Regions from separate parts of the Homo sapiens genome. Here region 2 is linked to region 1. The links come from fine-mapping of genetic effects on gene expression. A gene starts in region 1. The other region holds a variant in brackets. All regions are shown on one strand. Distances are between the middles of the regions.

Region 1 (8,000 bases):
GAGCCCTTCCCAGGATTTTCTAATATGTAAATCAGGAAAAATTAAGTGAAAACTGGCTGCCCAGCCCCCAAAGCCCACCTATACTTCCTAAAGGTTAGTATAAAGTCTGTTCCTCTTACTTGGTGCCCCCCTGCACAGATTTGACACTTACTCTCCATTAAACCCATTAACATGCAGGATCCTCATCTGCTTCACAATGGTGCTTTTACCAGATTCTCCAGCACCTAGAAAATGAAAGTAAGTCTCAGGTTATGAAGGAGGCATTTTAACACTTTGGGCAGGGAGGTCTGCTGTTGTTGTTTTGTTTTTCCATAGAAGCAACATGCAAAAAACCAAACACAAAATCACAGACTTGCAACTTTCCTTGACATTTCGACGCAGAGAAAAGGAAATCAATGTCCAATTCAGTGTCTACCTGCAGTATTTCACCATCCAAATAACAAACAAGAATTTAAGGTTTGCTGGTTTTAATTTTTCTTTTGATTGTTTAAAAAATTGTGGGGTGGTGTTGGAAAGGGGCAAAGAGAAGGAATGACGCAATTTTGTCATTTGTGGGGTAAACAAGAAAATTGAAGTTAAAACTGTGAAACTGAATCCCTGATACATGAACATTCACACATAAACATATCTAGACACATAATTTGTTGTCAGATGTTTCATGGTTAAAATACCCGGGATTCCCAACAATGCCCAGACACTGCAGTCTCTTCCACATCACGTAGCGATGCAGCACTTTCCTCCTCAACATTTTCACAACGCAGCTTCTTTCTGTGCAGGTTTCCTACCCCTTGGGCTACTTAAAAATCCACCCCTAAAACTGCATTACATTTTATCCACTTATCCATCCTCCTCTTTCCTCACAAACTATATCTTTCTAAAGATAAATTCCCTCTGGGTACAACTATGTTGCTGAGGAAAAGGGGAGACCATCAATTATCTGTCATCTTCTGGAAAAACCACACTTTAACATCAAATACAGTTCCTGAGACCCTATTAGCATTAGGTAAACTGCAAAAACAACAGTAAAAAGTAACATAAGAACAAAACTTTAATCAAAAGGAAAACTATCCCTGGGAAGTACTGAATTTGAAAGATTCCAAGCCCTTCCCAACTCAAAGAGTAGAAACACATGCCTCCATTTTAAATCATCTTTCATTTGTAAAAATACATATATGTTTCATGGAAAAAACACATTTCCATCAAGCTAGAGGGAGGATTGCTATTTTGCATCTTTTTTGCAATGCACATTCTCCAACAGATAATCCACGTGTGAAGTTTTTTTGCCCTCCTTCCACACAAATCTGTTATTACCTTTTTCTTTCTTTTTAACTTTTAATTGTATTGTTTTGTTTTAATGCCCAGATAGCACAGCATTCCTCCTTTACTTGCCTTTTCACAAGCCCGTAATCAATATCTGTAAAAGTTAAAATTAGTTTCCACAGAAACATTGATTTCAAAGCAAACACTATCTTAATGAGCCTAACTCTGGTAAATTAAAAATATAAATGGCACTATTAAGAGAGGCCAAGGAAACAATACGTAATATTTAGCAGGATCTCTAATATTCTAATTTCAGAAGTGTTAAACTGTGTAACAGTTACAGGACCTATCTTTCATAGGCAAAAACAGATCCGTGCCTCAGTTTCCACATTTATGAAATGTGGCTGAAAAATTATTTTAAGATCATTGTAGTTCTCTAATTCACTTAATTTTTATGTCATTAAGATGGAGTAAAAAGAGGATTTGGGGCATTATTAGGTTTCCTCTTTTGTGGGGAGGCATTATTTGGTGAGAATCACCATTTAAAAATGCAAAATATTGTGTCACTGGCTTAAGCTGCAGATTCCTAGGCCAGAGGCAATCAATACATCATGATGTAATGTAGTCATATAGACTAGGACACTTAGATTAGCCCCCGTGACGCAAGGCGTGTTCTGAGTAACAGTCTCAAATTAAGTGGAGACTTTGTGATCACTGCACAAAAGGTGTTGGAAATTTTAAGATATCATTAGCATCACACTTGACTTAAAGTAGTACTGAGATAGCATTCACAGAAAAGATTCTAGACTTTTCCAGATTTATACTTTGAAATCAAGTTATACGCATACTAATATCCCAACAGCATAATTCTGCCTTTAAAAGTTTTAGACAAGACAGCAACACATGTACCATTTAATTACTGAAATTGCAAATGCATAAACACCAAAGACACTTATTTTGACTTAATTAGTAATTTTCTGCTTTTATAAATCTGGACCCAGGAGAACAAAGTCATGACCTATGCAAAAAGAGCAAACCAAAAGCCACCAAAGGAAAATAAATAAGAACAGCCTTTTATTATTTTCTTTATACTCAAGCTGTTTTGTTGAAATGTGACCACGAACTAGGTCTTAACCTAGCAAATTCACAAATTTATTCAGATAGCCAAATTATCAAGGAAGTGGAAAACTTCCATTTTTAATTAATGCTGTGTAATTCTTTTGGTCATTTCATTACATTTTTTTCCCCCAAAACAGCACCTTAAGAAAAAAAAGGAGGAAAGGCCATCTCCTTATAGTTAACCTTTTTTTATTTTATTATTATTTTTTTAATCAGAGGAAAAATCGCAATCAAAAAAAGAAAACCCAAAACCAAACAACTAAATGTCACTTGATAAACAACTAATTAATGTCTTTTTATCTCTTCCCACCTGGAGGAAAAGTCTCCTTAGAGCACTCTCAATCCCCCCTCCCACCTTGAGGAGGACAAAAAAAAAAAAAAAAAAAAAAAGAAACCACGCCATTTCCAGACCAAGAAGCCATTTACAGACAAATGTCATTCTCCAGTTTTATCTGATTTGTGAATGTCTTTGTTTTTTCTTTTCACAAAGCACTCTCAATGTGGCCAGCCAGCAGGAAAATGTGTTTTTTTTAATGGTTTATTAAAATAGTGTTGGGGGGGCGCTGCTCGTGGTGGGTGGGGGGGGCAGCTGCTACAATTAATTCTCCGCTCTGCTTTTGAAAAAGCCTGCAAGTCTGGAAGGGGAAAAAAAGGTCACACTGTAAAATGACGTGTCATTTGGCTTCACTGGGCACTTCTCGTACTAACTCTATCCATTTTTTGGTGTTGGGGGGTGGTCTTATTTTATTTGACTCTCCTTCTCCTCCTTCCACGGCCCGGCCTGGCCCGGGACACGTCTGCTCCGCGCACACACAGTCAGTCGGTCCTGCCCGAAACGCACCAAGTCGCGCCCAGCGGCAACCGCCCTCCCTCCTCCCCTCGCCGCCCCCCTCCCGACTCCGGCGCCACGACTCCCTTGCGCCCCCTCCCCCCCACTGCACCACCTTTACCGCTCCGATCCTTTCCGAGGGGCTGATGTCACCAGCCCCCCCACTCTCCTCGGCCACTTCTCCCCGCCAAAGCCTCCCTTTGGCGAGGCCCCCTCCGCCACCACGGCGCCCCCCAGCGTCACCCCCTCCTCTCCTCGCCCCTTTCTTCCCCTCTTTCCCTCTCCCAACAAATCTCACACCCCACGGAGGCGGGTCCCCCTCCCTCTACCCGCCACCCGGTTTCCTGTCCCCGAAACCCTCTTTTTGTCGCAGTCTCCGGAGCCCCATGGGCTCCCCCTCCCCCTCCCCAACACGCACCCAAACCCCTGGCGTCGTGTAGGCCTCGCGGAAAAAGAGAGAAAGAGAGAAAGAGGGGGAGAGCGAGAGCGAGAGCAAGAGAGAGACACTGAGCGGGCAGGCCGGGGGAGGGGGACCCGCGCCCGCGTCGCCACGGCCCCCCGCCCCGTTTTTGAGCCCCCGCCCGGCCGAATCCGCGCCCCTGGGTCCCCCTTCCGGCCTCGCCCCCCACAGACAGAGCCCGCGAACGGGCGGGGGGCTCGGGAGCGCGCGCCCGGGGCGGGGGGCGGGCTCGGCGCGCGCGGCCTGCGGGGCGCCCTTCGAGGGCCCCCGGGCCGGGGCCGGCGCCCCCCGCCCGCCCTTACCCAGCAGCAGCAGGCGGTGCGTGGCCCGGTAGACCTGCTTGTCCTTCTGCAGCTGCTTCTCGATCTTTTTGTTGGCCTCACGCTGCGCCTTCTCCTCGTTGCGCTGGTCCTCGGTCTTACTGTTCCCGAGGCAGCCCATGGCGGCGGCGGCGGCGGCGGGGCGCGGCCGGGCTGCGGCGGCGGCGGGCGCGGGCGGCCTCACGCGGGCCGGGAGGGCCGGGGCAGCGCCGGGCGGGCGGGCCGGGCGCGGGCTCGGCTCCTCGGCAAGGAGCGCGCGGGGCGGACTGCGGGCCGCGGGCCGCGGGGCGCGCGGACGGGCGGGAAGGGGAGGGTGTCGGTCGGACCGAGGGGCGCGCGCAGCTCCCCGCCCCTCGAGCCGAGGCCGAGGGGGCTGATGGCCGCCGCCGGGCCGAGGCGGACCAGAGCAGGAGCTGCGGGAGCTGCTGCCGCCGCTGCCGCCGCCGCCGCTCTTATTGCCTCGGCCGGGCCCCCGCCGCCGCCCCGAGCCAAAAGCGCCGCGGCGGGCGGGGGGAGGCGGGGGGAGGAGGAGGCGGCGGCGGCGAGGGGGGTGGAAGGAGGAGGAGGAGGAGGAGGGCCGAGGAGCGGCCGCGGCGGCGGCGGCGGCTGGGAGGGCGGGAGCCGGCGGAGGGAGGCGGCCCCCCGGGAGCCCGGGGAGGGGGTCCCTCCGCCCGCGCCCGGCCGGGGACGGGACGGGCCGGGGAGACGCCCCCCACCCCCCGGGCTCGGGCAGCAGCCCGGCTGAGCCGAGGGGGGAGAGGGGGCGTCTCCGCGCCAGTGACGACCCCTCGCACGACGCCAACGCTCCACCCCCCGGACCGCGTCGCCCGGCGCCCCCGAGGCCTCCTCCCCCTCCCGCGGGCGCCGCCGAGGGGCTGGGGTGGGCGGAAGGGGAGGGAGCGCGCGCCCGGACTTAGGAAAATTTTCGAAAGAGCGAGAGACACAGAGAGCCAGAGAGCAGGAGTGTGGAAAAAGCGAGGCGAGCACGAACCAAAGGACAGAGCAACCGAAAAGGAAAATGTGTCCACACACACACACGAACACGAATAAAAACCCACACTACACAGCGATGGTGGTGTCTGGTGGCGGTGGCGGGGTGGGGGGTCTGACTAGATGAGCCGCTCCTCGCGCCCCCGGCGCCGGGCGCCATGGCCCGAGCCGAAGGCGCCTCTGGCCCCGGAGCGCCCGCGGCCTCTGCGCTTGGCGCGGCCGCCCAAGTAGGAGAAGAAGGCGCAGCCCAGGAACACTCGGAAGCAGCAGGTCGCCCCGAACACGAAGCCGCAGCCGCGGCCCTGCTCCGTGCGCTTCTGCAGCAGGAAGTTGAGCACCCACGAGGGGCTGCGCACCGAGAAGACCAGGAACACCACGAGGGGCAGGTGGGCGCTCAGCGCGCCAGCCTTGAGCGGCCCGGGCCGCCACACGATGCCCCCAACGCGCGGCGCCGCGTAGTAGGCGTCGTCCTCGTCGCTCGAGTCCGTGTCCCAGTCAGCCCAGGCCCTACTCGTGCCCCCGGCGGCGGCGCCCTCCTCGGCGCCCCCGACGGCGCCCTCCTCGGCGCCCTCGTCGTCGTCGGCGGCGGCCGCGGCGGCGGCGGCCTCGGGGCATCGGGCCTCCTCCTGGGCTTCTGGCACCTTCTTCTTCTTCTTCTTCAGCATCTTCTCCATCTTCTTCCTCTCCTTCTCCTTCTTCTTCTCCTCCTTTCGCCTCTGCTCCAGCAGCTTCTTCTCGAGCTTCTTGCGCTCCTTGTCTGTTAGGAACTTTTCGGGGAGCGCCTCCCGCGCCGGGTTCTTGGGGTTCTTCGCGAGCTTCTCGGGGTCCCCGCTCTTCCGCGGCGCGAGCGGCTCTCTCGGCTCGGCCAACGCCGCAGCCGCCGCCGCAGCTTCGGCAGCCACCTCGGCAGCCGCCGCGGCCGTCTTCTTCTCGCTCTCCGCCGCCCGGGCTTTGAGCTTCATGGCCATCTTCAGCATGGTGGCCCGGCCACCTCGGGGAGCTCGGCTCGCGCCTGGCCCGGGCTCCCTGCTTGCCCCCGGCCTCGGGCTGCCCGGCCCCCGTGCGCCCCGTGTCGGGGGGCTTGGCTGCGGTTCCCGCCGCGCTGCCCCGGGGCCGCGGAGCGCGGCTGCCCGGGCTTCGGGCTGCTGGGCTGGCTGCCTAAGAGTTAGCGCCAAAAAGGATGAGCAAACGAAAAAGGGACAAGAACAAACCAAAAAGCACCCAACAACAGCGAGAAACCAAAAAGCACCAAGAAATGTCAACTCAAAAAGAAAAGTGCAAAGGCGCGGATGGCAGGAGTCTGTTTACCCTCAGGCGCTCCTTGGTTTGGCTCTTGGGCACGCCAATGGAGAAGAGAAAAGAGAGAGAATTGGGGGGTGCCCGGAGGCGCCCCGGGGCAAGGCAGCGGCGCCCGGGCGCCCCTGCCTTGTCCCGGACCCGGCGGCTCTTGCCTGCGCCGGGCGACTCGCACTTCCGCGGGAGGCCCCGGCGCTCCCCGACTTACATGTGAGTGAGGTGCACTCACACGCAAGGCAGCGCCTGCCGGCCGCCCGCCGCCGCCCCGCGCCGGGACAGGGGCTCGCTCCAGCCGCCGCGCCGCAGCCCGGAGCCAGAGAGCAGGGGAGCGCCGCGCCGGCCAGCCACCTGACGCAGCCCGCTCCGCGGTGCCGACGCGACTGAGTGTCCCCGCCGGGGAGCAGAGCTTCTAACCGGCCCCGATGACGCCCCAGCCTCTTCAGAGGACCGACCCATAGCAGCGGCCCCTATAAACCGAAGGGGAAGCGCGAAAAATCGGCCCACCGGGGACGCACCCAAATGGGCCGCCGCGCACCCTGGGGGTGCAGGCCGGTGCCGGGACCGCGCGGGCGTGGGCCGGGGGCGCGGGGGCCGCGATGGCGGGGGGCGCGGGCGCGCCCAAGGCGGTGGGCGCTCAACCCCGCCTCCCAGACCTGCCTCCCAATTTTCGGTGAGTGGTGTAGCCCTGGGCGGCGTGCAAAGTGTGCGACGGCGGCGCTTACCCCTGCTGTGCGCCTCCTTACCTCCAGCCACCCACCCCGCCCTCCCAGCGGCGCGCGCCCGCCGAGGTAGGTGTCAGAGAGCCGAATTCGAATTATTTGCGACGCCCGGACGGAGTTTCGTATCTTCGGACGAGAAAAGTGCGATGGGAGTGCAAAGCCTCCCCTGCTCGAAGCAGCAGGCGCGCCGGTGTCACGGGAGCCGAGGAGCGGTGGCCGTGGCTGTGGAGTCGGTGCTCGAGGCGTCCTCCCAGGTGGGAGAGGTGGCGGCCTTGCCTGGGCGCCCTGGGGGCTCTGGAACAGAGGGAAAAGTAGTTTACGGAACGTGAACTTGTTTGAGGGTTCTTTCAAAACTCTCAAGTGTCCCGCCGCACACTAGGATATAGCAGTGCACGGGATTAGGAGCAGGGTTACTAAATTTTCAAGCAGTTGACCCCAGCCCGCCTTTCCTGGGACCTTGGTTAGGTCATCTGCTGCCACCATGGTGTCTGCTGGGATACGGTTTATTCATTCAATAAATGTTTGGTGCCTGCCAGTTCCGCGGCTCACCATGTGCCCAGGTGAGCCGAGGCGGCCAGGTAATCAGGCTAAGACGTGAGCAGTGTCTTGGATGGGACACAGGCCTACGTCCCGGAAAGCCCAGATATGCAAAGTCCACAAACTGTCTTCCAACTTTTTCTTTGACTTCTTAACAGAGCCCATGAAACTTAAGATGTTTGATGGAGAAGGAGAAAAAAGAAAAGTCTACCTATAAATGGAAACACATTTAACAGTCCCCAGGGGTATGGGGCGGCTGATACCACCAGAGGCCTTGAGCAAACTTGTATCATTTTAAGTTAGCTTTGAAAATAAAAAGACACTGTTAGCCATTCAACCGGATGACTGAAATTCCCCCCTTTTCCCCAGTTTGCTCCACTTCGAGTAAGAAAAGGTGTGACAGATGAAGATGCCACATATTATTTTTCTTGGCCCCTTCAGGTACACTGCTGCCCCCATTGTACAAGGCC
Region 2 (8,507 bases), 500 kb before region 1:
TTTTCCTTCTATAGACACAGAAAACCCTTAACTAACATAAACACTTAGAACAAGCTAGGCACAAAGTGACATCCAAAAACTGTTCATTAACAATAGGGAAGACTAAAGAAGCAAAATCTGACTTTTAAAGCAGCACCCTGGCCCGCCCAACCTGATCATCCCAGGAGGAATAAGAAGTGGCCCTGGCAATTCAGGAGCTTGTACTAGTTTGGAGCAATGAGATAGACACAAAATAGATGAAAATCCAAGGCCCAATAAAATCAAATGCTGAACCTAGATAAATTAGTACCAGTTGAGTAAGCTGTAGTTTGTCTTTGCACAAAAAAGGGAGAGCTTCAAATTGGCTAAAGTGACTGACAGAAGTTTCCTGAATTTCCCTCACTCAACAAACCTTGATTAAACTTACTGCATTCCCACTGCCTTCTCACAAACTACATCCTCAGAGCATCGTATGTAAGAACAACCATATAAAGTACCACTTTTATTCCCATTTTATAGACTCAGAAACTGAGGCTCAGAGAGGTTAAGTAACTGCCATAGTCAGGACTCATTAGGTTGCAAGTGACAGAAACTCAACTCGAAGCAGGCAAATCTGTTGGCTCATGTAACCGGAAAGTCCCGGAGGAGAGGCTGGGCTTCACATCTGGATCTGGCTGCTGAATATCATCAGACCCCTGTCTCTCCACCTCCCGGCTCCAGTGCCCTCTCTGAGGCCTCATTCCCAGCCCAGCTCTGCTCAGGAGGCCACAGGGGCCACAAGAGCTCCAGGCTTGTGTCGCCTATGTTAGCGGCCAGAGGAAAGAGAGAGATTCTTCTGCACAGATTCTGCCAGGAGCCCAGGGCTTGACACTCAGTGGCCTGATTGGGCCATGTGTCCATCTCTGACCCATGGCTGACTCTGATTTACCCAGCCTGGGTCCTGCACCCACTGTGGTTCCAGGTGGGGAGTCAAGCCCATTCTGAAGGTCGCAGATGGAAAGCAGGGCTGGAGTCTTTGCTGGAAGCAGGAAGAACAGATGTGGCATCGGAGAGCCACGTACCCAGCTCAGGAGCTGCCCAAGGTTATTTAGGGAGAACCGTTTCCTTCTGCTGCCCAGTTTCTACTTTGGCTCAGTGAAGAAGCAGCGTCACCCCTGGTAAAAATGCCAGACGGGGCCCTGCTTCCCATCTCTGTACCCCTTGCCTGCTCCTCACCAGGACAGCAAACTTGGTGGCAGCCAATAGCCTGGGGGCAGAGTTAATGAAATGCAGATCACTGTTCATACCATGTGTAGCCCAGGCTTCTGCTTCCTGGACCAAGCTGCCTCCAGGGCCGCAGGTATCTCTGCTTGCTGTGTTCACACAGACGGGACTCCATCCTCTGGGTCCGAGCCAACTTTCCCACTGTCAGCTCAGGGGAAAAGGCATATCTGGTTTGGGGTTGGAAGGCTGAGGCCACACCACTACCTGAAGCCCAGGTGATGTTCCAGCTACCTCTAGCCCTGGCACCTTCAGGGGGAGGAGGCAACAGCAAATGGCCCCTCTGACCACCATCGGCCTCTGTCTCTCCCTGTCCCCAGCAGGATCTAAACCTCCCTCCCTCCACTAATATGGTGTCCCGAGCACACCAATCGGAGACCACCTAGATCCATCCAGGAGGCTGGAGGAGGCAGAGGCTGGGAGGGGGAGCTTATGAATGGAGAGGAATCGTGTGGGGTCCCAGGGAAGCCCTGAGGATCTGGGCTGGGTCCTGCCCACACGGGCTTCTGCAGCATCCTGTGACATTGGAGCCCGGAGGAAGAAAGAAAGGGGAGTTCGCCAGGACTGGGGTCAGGGATGCTGCTGTACGTGCCCATATGCCCTTGGCACTCAGTTCCAGAACATTCCAACAATGTCCTTCTGTGAACACCAGCGACTCTCCTCTGGGATCTCCCATAACTGGAGGCACCATGGAGTTCTCATGCCCAGAAGCAGCCCTGAGCCAAGGATGGTGGGAGTTGAATGAGACCCCAGTTTCCTTGCCCCACAGCCTGCCCGGCACCATCTCCCAGAGCCCCCTGGTGAGAACCAGCCTGGGTCACTCGCTGCTGTGATGCGCTGAGAGCATTACTTCACTCTTTCCTCTCTACCGCTTTCTCGGGGTCTTAGGGCTGTTACCTGGGATTGCCTCCCAGAGCGGCTGCTTGCCCTCAAAGCCTTGTCTAGGGTCTGCTTCCTGGGGACCCCAGCTTTAAACAACCAGCTACTATTATGGGTTGAATGGTAACCCCCAAAAGATGTGTCCACATCATAATCCCTAGAATCTGTTATTGTGACCTTATGGGGAAAATGTCCTTGTGGATGTGATTAAGTGAAGAATCTTGTGATGAGATCACCCTGGATTATCCTGCCAGACCCTAAATCCAATGACAGCCATCCTTGCAGGAGAGAGGCAGAGTGAGGCCTGACACACAGAGAAGAGGAGAAGGCCACGTGAGGACGGAGGCAGAGGATGGAGGCAGAGATGGGAGGATGCGGCCACCAGCCAAGGACACCCAGAGCCACCAGAAGCTGGAAGAGGCCAGGAAGGAGCCTCTCCTGGAGGCTTCAGAAGGCGCTTGGCCCTGTTGACGCCTTGATTTTGGATTTCTGGCCTCTGGAATGGTGAGAGAACACATTTCTCTTGTTATAAGCCACTCAGTTTGTAGTCACTTGGTACAGCAGCCCCCAGGAAACTCCTAGAGCTGTCTTCTGTCTTGTGGGAGACTCCTGGGGCAATGGTATAGTATTGGGGTTATAACTCATTCACAGTTCACTTGAATTTTATCCCTAAGAAAAGTCACGGGCCATGGGAGAGATTTCAAGCAAAGGCGTGATATGGCCCAGTCGTGTTTTTATTTTTATTTTTGAGGCAGATCTCACTCTGTCACCCAGGCTGGAATGCAATGGCACAATCTTGGCTCACTACAACCTCCGCCTCCCAGGCTCAAATGATCTTCCTGCTTCAGCCTTCCTAGTAGCTGGGACTACAGGCACACACCTCCATGCCCAGCTAATTTTATTTATTTATTTTTTTATAGAGATGGGGTTTTGCCATGTTGTCCAGGCTGCTCTCGAACACTTGGGCTCAAAGGATCCACCCACTTTGGCCTCCCAAAGTGCTGGGATTATAGGCATGAGCCACCATGCCTGGCCTCCCAGCTGTGTTTGGAAAGGGTCTCTGGTTGTTGTGGAAAATGCAGACCAGAGCTGGGATGAAGGTAGGTTTCCCAGGGAAGGCCTAGGTCAGACCCTAAGCTGCTCCTGCCAACCTCGCTTCCAGGGCAGGCAGGCGTTGATGACGGACATCTGTGTTGACAACTGCATCTGCAGCATCCAGCGCCCATTCTGGGCCAGCCAGCAGCTCTCTGAGCAGGTAGGGGCATCCCTGTGAGGGTCCTGACCACCCCAGCAGCCCCAGATGATGCTCCCCATGATGGAGGTGACCCCCTAGCATGTACTTTGTGCCAAAGGGCCTGGCTCACAGCTTTTCAGAAAACCTGAAACCAAAAGGTAATTTACTTC[C/G]CTTCTCACCGAGGTCACTTAGCTGTCTGCCAATCATATTTCAGATGTGATCAACCTGGTCGCACCCTCCTCTTCTTGACCTGACTTGCAAAAACCCAGTTGAATGAATCTCCCTCCACCACAGGCAATTTTCCCTTGGGGAGAAAGACAGCTCGTTCTTTTTGACACTGGTGAATGTCCTTTAGGTGTGATATATGGCCTCTCTTTGACAACCAAGGTGGTGCACCCAACCTGAATTTATTCTTTTAATATCTCAGCCAAGGAGTGATTGCTCCATGTTCTTTATTCTCTTTGATGAAGCACTTAAGGGATTACCTGTACCTTCCGAGCTGAAGTGCCGCTCAGGAGAGAAAGGAAAGGGGTATGGCCCTATGAACTAATGGAATTAATAACTTTGGGGCAATTTATCTTCTCTTACTGACTTCCCACACCCCTTCTTTCCATCCCTACTGCCAAGACCCATTAGGGACACCAAGTTGGCAGTGAAAAACTGAGAAGCACTCTAAAAATGTGCAGGGGGTGAGACATTTGGGCATTTCTTTCTTCGTTTTGTTTTTTAGAGACAGGGTCTCACTCTGTCACCCAGGCTGGAGTGCAGTGGTGCCATTATAGCTCACTGCAGCCCCGAACTCCTGGGTTCCAGCCATCCTTCTGCCTCAGCCTCAGATGTGACAACAGGCATGCACCACCACACCCGGCTAATTTATTTTATTTTATTTTCTTGTAGAGACGGGGTCTCGCGTTGTTGCCTAGTCTGTCTTTGTAAGGAAAGAAGGAAACTTCCTTATCCTGTCACTACACAGCTGCAGTTAACTGTACCCTTTGTTATGGCCCCTCTTGAACCAAAACAGGGAGCTCCCACCTGATGATCAGCACCTCCTCAGCATTTTCTCTTGCTACCTCACAAGACGGTAAGCTCTCTTTGGAGAAACACAAACATCTCCTCCCGCCATGCCCTGTCCTGGTGTCCCAGGCTCTTGGAGATGCTCAGAAAATAAACAGAGAGGTGGAACAGCATGCACATGACAGCTGATGATGGATGTTGTGGTGACTCCCAAACAGCTTTCCCCACAAACCCTGGAGCCCTGCACCCCAGCCCCCCCGAGCCTCCTCTCTAGGCCTTCTGCGTTGCCAGAATTGTGATGGACGGTGGGGCCATCATCTGTCCTTCTCCCTGTCCTTCTGGCACACAAAACAGTGCCCAACATGAGGACAATTGGGAGGGGTTGGGAGAAAAAATAAAACTGTTCATGTAGCCAAGAAGCCAGGCGAGAGGATTTATCATGCATTCCTCATGGAGGCCACTCCCTCCACCCCCGACCCCTGACTGGCTCCAGTTTAAACATTCCCTTTTGTGTTTGAGGAGAATGGATGGAATTTGCATGTTTCTCTTCCAACAGCAGCTAGTGTCTGGGGACAGGGTTGCTGTGGCTGACACGTGGAGACAGCCATCATCAGCCAAAGGGAGAGGACTGGAGGGCCCCCAATGACCACCATGGAGCTGAGACAGAGCTTGCTGCTCCTCTCTGACACCTGATCCCCACCACTGCCACCTGTATGGCTATTGAGCCTGGACTAATGGAGAGGAGGGAAACTGAGGCACAGAGGGAGGGGGTGAGTGAAATGGAAAGGTGTGGAGAAGAGCTCCAGCTGGTGTCTGAGCCCAGCTATCAGACTCCCCTTTGACCTGGTGTCTCTCCTTTCTCTACCTGGTGTCTCAGTTTCCCCCCTGGAGTTTGAAGGGCTGCACTTGGTCAGAATTTGCTAAAGCGTGGCATTACGATGACAGGAAAAATCTCTGTCTAATATATCCACAGGCCCTGAACACTCACAACCTTCCTTGTGAACAAAGCTGGACTCAGGCTCGGAATCCTCTTCAGGCAAGGGTCTCCAGCTAGTAACACTTGGTTTCTGTTTTTCAGTTACCGTCTATTAAATACGGCAAGGAGTAATGATTTCCCACTTCTGACCCTGCGTAAAGAAATCTATTTAATGTTTTTAAGAGGTGAATTTATTTAGAAACAAACATGAAAATAGCACAGGTGGAAGTGAAACGGAACAAGCTTTATGGAAGGGGAGCCAAGTTGTGTCTAATTAGGCCGTGATTGTGTCTGTGTCCCCAAATGCAGGACATGAGGTCCTCCGGGCCACCCTCCCTCCCAAGTCTAAGATTCTTTGAGGCTACAGAGATTGGCTCAAGGTTTGGGACAACCAGGCAAGGTTGAACAATAGGCTAAGAGGACAACCTGTTCTGAGCAGATGCCCTGCACGTCCAAAGGTCAGGTTGGGGTGGGTTGTCTGAGTTTCAAGAAGAAGGAACGCGAGACCAGCGACAGCCCCAATCCTGGAACAGGAGTCTCAGCCCCATGCTGGAGCAGACGAGGAGAGACACGTGCTCGAGTGGCCACAGGGCGCTGGCCACCTAGGCTAACTAGGAAGGAAACTAGCTCATCTCTTTGGGTTTTGTCTGAAGCCTCCCTACTGAACTCACCCCCAGCCCTCCCTCCTATGTCTACAGGGACCCTTAGAGAGAGAGAGAACCTGCCCCTTGAATTGAAAACAGCTCACAGCTTTCTGAACTCAAAGCTCCCAGGCAGGAAGCAGCCTGTCACAGCAGAGGGAGCAGGAAGGAATGCGGTGAAGACAGCTGCATGTCTAAGCCTCTGCGATTCCTCCCATTGGCCCTAGGAGGACTTGCCCAGAGGTGCACGGTAAAGAGCACAGCCAGTGCAAATGCACATTTCTCCACCGAATCCAGCACCACCCTCTGTGGCCTGCAGACCTAGGAGTGATGCTAGGGTGAGGGGTGCAGCCCTGTCCCTCCTTGACATCTGCAGGACTCCAAGCTCGTCATCACCATGACTGTGGGAAGGTGGCAATGCCCTGGGCTGGTGTTTGAGACCTTAAGTTGAGCAGAACACCTGGCGGGTTCCTACGAGTGCATCCCAGGTGTGAGGCTGAAAGGGGACCCTGCCCTCCCTGCCCTAGCCCAGAGATGGGGCTGCTCAGGGGCTTGGTGTTCTAACCCATGCTCAGAATCTGGGGAGCAAAGTTATTTCATGGGCCACTGAGGAAGGCCAACATCCAGACTGCTTGGCCTCTGCAGAATACAGAGGATGCTTAAAGAGAGGAGACATGCTCTGCCCCGCTCAGCTCCTTCCCTCCCCTTCCCCTCCCTTACCTCCTTTCCCCTCACCTTGTCCTCATTACCTCCTTCCCCACTCAGCTCCTCCCCTCTCACCTCCTCCCCATCACCTCCTTCCCCCCCACTTCCTCCCTGCTTACCTCCTACACACTCACCTCCTCCCCATCACCTCCTTCCCCCCCACTTCCTCCCTGCTTACCTCCTACACACTCACCTCCTCCCCATCACCTCCTTCCCCCCCACTTCCTCCCTGCTTACCTCCTACACACTCACCTCCTCCCCATCACCTCCTTCCCCCCCACTTCCTCCCTGCTTACCTCCTACACACTCACCTCCTCCCCATCACCTCCTTCCCCCCCACTTCCTCCCTGCTTACCTCCTACACACTCACCTCCTTCCCATCACCTCCTTCCCCCCCACTTCCTCCCTGCTTACCTCCTACACACTCACCTCCTCCCCATCACCTCCTTCCCCCCCACTTCCTCCCTGCTTACCTCCTACACACTCACCTCCTCCCCATCACCTCCTTCCCCCCCACTTCCTCCCTGCTTACCTCCTACACACTCACCTCCTCCCCATCACCTCCTTCCCCCCCACTTCCTCCCTGCTTACCTCCTACACACTCACCTCCTTCCCATCACCTCCTTCCTCCGCATCGCCTCCCTTGCCCCCTCACCTCCTCCCCTCTCACCACTTCCCCACTCACCCTCTCCCCATCACTTCCTTACTCATCTCCCTCCCCACTCCCCTCCTCTGCCTCACCTCCTTCCCCCCCACCTCCCCCACATCCTCCCTATCACCTCCTTCCCCCCACCTTCCTCCCCACTCACCTCCTCCCCATCACCTCCTTCCCCCGCCACCTCTTTCCCCCCTCACCTCCTCCCCATCACTTCCTTCCCCTCTACCTCCTCCCTGCTCGCCTCCTCCCTGCTCACCTCCTGCCCACTCACCTCCTATCACCTCCTTCCCCTACTCATCCCTGCTCTACTCATCTCCTCTCTGCTCACCTCCTGCCCACTCATCTCCTCCCTATCACTTCCTTCCCGCCACTCCACTCCCATCCCCACTCCACTCACCTCCTCCCTGCTCACCTCCTCCCTGCTCACCTCCTCCCCAGTCACCTCCTGCCCATTCACCTCCTCCCCATCACCTCCTTCCCCCCACCTCCTCCCCCATCACTTCCTTCCCCTCCACCTCCTCCCCGCTCACCACCCCCCTGCTCATCTTCTCCCTGCTCACCTCCTGCCCACTCACCTCCTCCCTATCACCTCCTTCCTCCACTCATCCCTGCTCACCTCCTCCCTGCTCACCTCCTGCCCACTCATCTCTTCCCCATCACCTCCTTCTCCCCCACCCCCTCCCCACTCACCTCCTCCTCCACCCCAATCATCAGCTCTCACATTTGAGGATGGAGGAGCTGGAGCTGTCTCCCAACACAGCCGAGGGTTGTTTGCTTTCACGGTGGTTCCAGGGCCACAGAACAGTCCCCTGGCTTGGTGGAAGCACAAAACCTCAGCAGCCAAGAGAGGTGTGTGGGCCAGTGGGACCGTGTGTGGGTCAGAGGGACTGTGTGTGAGCCAGAGGGACTGTGTGTGGAGCCATGTGAGCTGGAGGGAGACCGTGTGCGGGCCTGAGGGGCCTCATGTGGGCCAGGGGCCCCAGAGACAGGCGGCTACTGGAGGCCCCTGCCATTGTCTCAGCTTGTAGCTCTGAAATTCTGCACCTGTCAGATTTCTCTGAGAGAGCTTATTTCAGAAATAGATCCCAGACCTCTTCTAAGAAAAAGCCCAGGCACCCTGAGTGCTGGCTCCTGAGAGCATGGTTCTGTCAGGGCCCTGGA

Which allele goes with the higher level. Positions count from the first base shown, and alleles are read on the strand shown. Sizes are in standard deviations (SD) of each study's normalised expression.
As copies of G replace C in region 2, the expression in esophagus mucosa of the gene that starts at base 4,415 in region 1 goes down (small effect, 0.19 SD a copy in GTEx).

The links. PIP is the estimated chance that this variant, and not a neighbour inherited with it, causes the effect. A credible set is the group of variants that fine-mapping cannot tell apart.
Region 2: its variant is the best candidate, but not a certain one, in a credible set for the expression of GNAS in esophagus mucosa (GTEx, PIP 0.71).

What each region holds. Positions count from the first base shown.
Region 1 is chr20:58,887,836-58,895,835 of GRCh38, reverse strand. It overlaps GNAS (GNAS complex locus), which reads right to left and starts at 4,415. Exons shown (of 13, transcript NM_000516.7): 1 at 3,971-4,415; 2 at 152-224. The coding sequence starts at 4,109. It overlaps LOC101927932 (a long non-coding RNA gene), which reads left to right and starts at 7,026. Exons shown (of 5, transcript NR_126334.1): 1 at 7,026-7,062. RefSeq lists enhancers at 1-453, 7,078-7,297 and silencers at 3,258-3,347, 4,218-4,437, 4,448-4,947, 5,008-5,157, 6,358-6,637.
Region 2 is chr20:59,383,376-59,391,882 of GRCh38, reverse strand. No RefSeq gene overlaps it. Among named protein-coding and RNA genes, the nearest start is that of EDN3, 87 kb to the right of the region's middle. The variant C/G (reference allele first, on the strand shown) is at 3,523.